2 separate regions of the Homo sapiens genome follow, and region 1 is linked to region 2. Evidence: fine-mapped expression QTL. A gene starts in region 2. The other region holds a variant in brackets. All regions are shown on one strand. Distances are between the middles of the regions. Region 1 has its middle 5.0 kb from the start of ABCC5. Region 2 holds the start of DVL3 (dishevelled segment polarity protein 3).

Evidence for each region. PIP is the estimated chance that this variant, and not a neighbour inherited with it, causes the effect.
Region 1: its variant is the best candidate, but not a certain one, in a credible set for the expression of DVL3 in whole blood (TOPMed, PIP 0.58).

The regions. Positions count from the first base shown.
Region 1 is chr3:184,021,398-184,024,305 of GRCh38, forward strand. No RefSeq gene overlaps it. Among named protein-coding and RNA genes, the nearest start is that of ABCC5, 5.0 kb to the left of the region's middle. The variant G/A (reference allele first, on the strand shown) is at 1,165.
Region 2 is chr3:184,154,041-184,156,948 of GRCh38, forward strand. It overlaps DVL3 (dishevelled segment polarity protein 3), which reads left to right and starts at 1,337. Exons shown (of 15, transcript NM_004423.4): 1 at 1,337-1,756. The coding sequence starts at 1,596. RefSeq lists a silencer at 1,234-1,583 and enhancers at 1,921-2,798, 2,799-2,908.

The DNA of each region.
Region 1 (2,908 bases), 130 kb before region 2:
CAAACAAAAAAACAGAAAAAAAAATGTATCTTTTGGAAACTGCACTGTGGCTGGCAGACTGGGAAAGAATTTGAGACCACTAGAATGGGAGAGAAGGGGCCACCTAGGAGTGACTGTTGTTGTGTAGGAAAGAGATCATGGTGGCTTGGATTAAGGTTGTGATGGAAAAGATGGAGAGAAAAAGATGAACTCAAGAGAAATTTAAGAGGTGATATCAACAGAACATGTGGATAGATTAGATACAGGGCAATGAGAAAGAAATGTCAAGGGTAACATGTAGGTGGTTGTGGAACTGGATAGATGGTGGTCCATTCATTGGCAGAAGTGCTCTACTGCAATAGCCTGACACCGTCCTCTACCTAGCTTGTCTAGAACTAATGTCACATGCTAACAGTCACCCCATATCTGCTATGGTACTCACGTTGAATTCTTCTAACAGTTATCAAGACAGAAGCTCCCTTTGTAGTTCAATTTTTCAATGAAAGGCATTTTCATGGAATAAGACCTTTTTTAAAGTTAGTTAATAAATCAAGTTTTATATTTGTTTTTTGTTTTGTTTGTTTGTTTGTTTTTTGAGACATTGTTTCATTCTTGTTACCCAGGCTGGAGTGCAATGGCGCAGTCTCGGCTCACTGCAACCTCCGCCTCCCGGGTTCAAATGATTCTCCTGCCTCAGCCTCCCAAGTAGCTGGGATTACAGGCACCCACCACCATGCCCGGCTAATTTTTGTAGTTTTAGTAGAGACAGGGTTTCACCATGTTGGTCAGTCTGGTCTCAAACTCCTAACCTCAGGTGATCCGCCCTCCTCGGCCTCCCAAAGTGCTGGGATTTACAGGCGTGAACCACTGTGCCCAACCTAAGTTTTATATTTGACATCATGGAAACCATGTAGTGTGAAAGAATAATGCACTCTTTAATGGCCTCAGGCAAATTAGAAGACAAGAGAATTTAAGTTTTAAATAATGCCAGATGAAAGCCAGATGACATGACAGCATGTTATACAGCCAAAGGGTTCACATATTTTCATAGAGAAGCCAAGTCTTCCTAAAGTACACAGAAGTATAGGCATGTTATGAGCAGTCATATTGCACATTCATCATTATAAAGGAAAGCATTGCACATTTCCTTTGTGGTAACAACTTCCCTTGTTATTTCATTGTTAC[G/A]TTACTTCATTAGTATGAAGTAGTTAGTATGAAGCGTTGCTTTTTAAATTTTTTTTTTCTTTTGAGACGGAGTTTCGCTCTGGAGTGCAATGGGGTAATCTTGGCTCACTACAACCTCCACCTCCCAGGTTCAAGCGATTCGCCTGCCTCGGTCTCCCTAGTAGCTGGGATTACAGGCGGATGCCACGACGCCCAGCTAATTTTTGTATTTTTAGTAGAGATGGTGTTTCACCATGTTGGTCAGGCTGGTTTCGAACTCCTGACCTCAGGTGATCTGCCTGCTCGGCCTCCCAAAGTGCTAGGATTACAGGCGTGAGCCACCATGCCTGGCCTGCTTTAAAAATTTTTTAAAGTACTCTTACATTGAGATGCACTATCAGATTCATTGGCCCAACAATAACAGATAGCTGTTCAAAAACTAGCTCCTTGTTAAAAACAGGAAAGAAATTGACAGCAATTATCTAATTTTAGCAAAACAATATTTGTAAATTAATTTCAACTTTATAGTGCTATAAGAACTATAAGCATAATGACTTTGCACACAGCTTTATGAACGGATTTATTTAAGTAATATTCTCATGTAAATAAGAAGTCAACATCAGGGGTTTGAGAGAATTGTTTCTCTTAAAAGGGGTCTGAGCCTTATTTGAGTTAGGGAAACACTGGGCTATAAAATAAAAGCAAACCTTGGCTGGGTATGCAAGGTCTTCCGTGATCTGGCCCTCAAAATACCACTGCCTCATCTCCTGTCACTCTCCTAGTCAAACCTGAGGTCCTGCCAACATTGTATTTTCCATGTTGTTATTCTAGCTGTTCCCTCTCTCCAGAACACCCTTCTAAATCTACTCAGCTAAAATAATAATCACAGCCCATAGGCAGGTCTTGGGATTTTAATCCTCCCAGAATGACAATTACTTACTTATTCAACGGAATAAAATGGTACAATATGTCTAACATCTCATGATGAGATGTATATGGAGAATTCTCCCACATTTTATTGTGAAGAATGGACTGAGCACCCACTACCTGAGAATCAACAGGATCCCTCTAAGCCAGAGAAGCAGGACCAATAGTCCAGAAAAAACAGAGCCTTCTCCAAAAAACAGGACTTGTCAGACAGAATGGTCAATCCCAGTCATTCCCCAATACTTCTCTTAAGCGTTTTGCTTGATAAATATGGACTTTTGACCAGAAGAAGAGAGAAACAACTCTGGTGTAAAGGTTGTTATCACTAGTAATCCCTCCCTCCTTCCCTCTCTCCCTCTCTTTCTGTCTTTCTCTCTTTCTTTCTTGAGGCAATCTCACCCTATCACCTAGGCTGAAGTACAGTGACATGATCTCGGCTCACTGCAACCTCTGCCTCCTGTGTTCAAGTGATTCTCCTGCCTCAGCCTCTGGAGTAGCTGGGATTACATGCATGCACCACCACGCCTGGCTAATTTTTGTATTTTTAGTAGAGACAGGGGTTTTGCCATATTGGCCAAGCTGGTCTCGAACTCCTGAACTCAAGTGATCCGCCCACTTCGGCCTCCCAAAGTGCTGGGATTATAGGCGAGAGCCACCGCACCTGGCAGGCTGCAGTTTCTTTCAATCAAAACAATTCAATTGTTGAGACCCTGAGGAAAAAATGTGTATTCTTAAAACAGAAATTGTGTACTTTATTGATTATAGGAGACCACCAGTGAGAAAAAATCAGCATTGCTTTTCAGCAACTAAAGTTGCCGTATAGGTGTATTTGATAAGT
Region 2 (2,908 bases):
TCAAGCGATTCTCCTGCCTCAGCCTCCCGAGTAGCTGGGACTACAGGCATGCGCCACCATGTCCAGCTAATTTTTGTATTTTTACTAGAGACGGGGTTTCACCATTTTGGCCAGGCTGGTCTCGAACTCCTAACCTCAGGTGATCCACCTGCCTCAGCCTCCCAAAATGTTGGAATTACAGGCATGAGCCATTGCGCCTGGCTTCCCCTGTCACTATCCCATCACTTTGTTTTACCTTCTTCATAGCAGTGGTCACTCTGAAGTTATGTATTTACAAGCCTATGTGCTTCCCTCCAGCTGAGGGAAGGTCCTGAGAGCAGCCTTGTCTGTCTCGCTATCGCTATATCTCATGCGATATGCCTTATACACAGTAGGCCTTCAGTATTTATTAAATGAATTAAAAGTTAAGGGGTGAGGAGATCTGTGAGGAACCGGCTATACCTAGTTCTGGAGTTCTGGTTTGAGACTTACTGTCTTAGGCATGCATGCATCCACTTATCTTTTTTTTTGGGGGGGGGCGAGGGGGGATGGAGTTTCACTTTTGTTGCCCAGGCTGGAGTGCAAAGGCAGGATCTCGACTCACCGATCTCGGCTCACCGCAACCTCCGCCGCCCGTGTTCAAGCGATTCTTCTGCCTCAGCCTCCCGAGTAGCTGAGATTACATGCATGCGCCACCACGCCCGGCTAATTTTTTTGTATTTTTAGTAGAGACAGGGTTTCTCCATGTTGGTCAGGCTGGTCTTGAACTCTCGACCTCGGGCGATCCGCCCGCCTTGGCCTCCCAAAGTGCTGGGATTAGAAGCGTGAGCCACCGCGCCCGGGCCCCACTTATTCCGCATTCAACCCATTTATTAAACCACTACCTTGCAACTGGACGCTAAGGTTATAGGGAGGAATCAGAACTGGATGCTGTCCTTCTCTCGAGATCAGTTTAGTAGACTCAGTGACAGCAGTTGTGCTTCTCAAGAAACACTGAAGGGCCATGTTGAGGTCATTCTCCTCCAGGGATCCAGAGTCAGACCCACCCTCTTTCCCCAGACCATTTCTGGGGACCAAAGCAATCCCTGCATTCCACTCTTCCTGGACTGCAGAGGAGTCGCCGATCCCACTTGGGTCCGGAGTCAGGGCCTTCAGGGGTCCGGGAACGCCGCCATCCCGGTGAATCTCCCCTTCCGTTTCTAGGGACCCGGGACCGGAGCGCCGCGGCCCGGCCAGTGGGCGGGAAACCCTGCCATCTGCCGCGACGCCGGCGCCTCTCCGCGGCGGCCGGGGGCGGGGCGCGCCGGGGCGGGGCCGCGCCGGGCCGGAGGAGGGGAGCGGGCCCGGACGAAGCCCTGGGCCGGGAGGGCCGCGGCCACCGGAAGAGTCGCGGTCGCCAGTCCAGTCGGGAGAGTGGGGAGCGGAAGCGGCGGCCGCGGCGGCGGCGGGCGGCGCTGGGACCCGGTAGCGGCCGGAGAACAAGGGAGCTGGCGCCGCCAGCAGCCGCCGAGCTGGGTTGAGCCGCTGGGCCGCGCCGCGCGCCGCCGCCGTCTGGGAGGCTCGGCCCGGCCGCCCGAGCAGGCCGCGCGCGGGCCGCCGGGCCCGAGGCCAGAGCCATGGGCGAGACCAAGATCATCTACCACTTGGATGGGCAGGAGACGCCGTACCTTGTGAAGCTGCCCCTGCCCGCCGAGCGCGTCACCTTGGCGGACTTTAAGGGCGTTTTGCAGCGACCCAGCTATAAGTTCTTCTTCAAGTCTATGGACGACGATTTCGGGTGAGGATGGCCCCCGCCCCGCCTCCGGGAGCCCCGGCCGCTCTGGCTTCTAAGGGATGACGCGGTCCGTTTCGACTTGCCTCGCTACACCGGCTCCTAGCCCCGCTCTGACTTCTAGGGGCGACTCGGCCCATTTGGGCCCCTTTGGTTCCAGCCCCAGTAGCAACTCCCGTTTACCTCTGAAGAGGGGACGTTGGCCTCCCTTGTTTAAGGGGACGTCCAATTCCCCACTAGCAATCAGAGTTCCTGCCGGTGCGGTCCCCTTACCTCTTCAGAGACCAGTGGCCCACAGAGACAGACACACCCCCCCTCCACCTAGTTTCAGAGCCCGAGTCCCCCATCCTCCTCCTGCCGAGGAGCCAGAGCCACCTTTTTCCGCACAGACTTGGGTCGTGTGGCCCTCGTTCTTCGCCCCCTTCATCTTTTCAGCAGCACAGCTCCCAGCCATATTTGGAGTATGCTGCATCTGAGGGCTCTGCTGGGACTTTGAGCTGGGGGAGGGGTGTCGGGGGTGCTCGGGCGCCTGGCCGCGAGCGGGGTCTGCAGATCTGATGTTTATCTAGCTGCCTGCCCTCTCCTTTGTGGGCTGTTGTGGGTGTTGTCACCGGAACAGAGAGCCTGACCCCTGCGGAGTAGTCCTCACTGACCCAGGTGCTGATCTTTCCTCCAATTCGGGCTTTTTTCCTCCAGTTGGTGGCCAGTGGAGAGACGTTAGGAAGGGCCTGGGGCCTGGGTGGGATAGCCAGGAAGAGTTTCTTGGTGTTCTCTATCTTCCCCTCCCTGGTGGGGTCTTCCCTTCCACCCAGCTGCAGAGATCTGGACAGGCACAGTTTGGAAGCAGTCACTTTCCCTTTAAGAGGGGATGGAATGTTGGAGCCGGAAGGTTCTGAAGCAGCTGGCCTGGGAAGAGGGGGGCCTGGCTGATCCCCCTCGAACCCCCCCAACTCCCAGGAGACTGGGGGAGGGGGAGGCGCCCACACTTGCCTGCCGCCTCACTAACTGGGCGCTGGGCCTGGAGGCGGTGGGGAAGGCCCCTCCAGGCCTGAAGGCTGCCTCTCCAGCCCTAGCCTGAGGCCTGCACTGCTCTTTGGAGCTGAGGCCCCACAGCCAAGAGGAGACATTCTTCTCCCCAGTGTTCATCTGTCTGGCTTC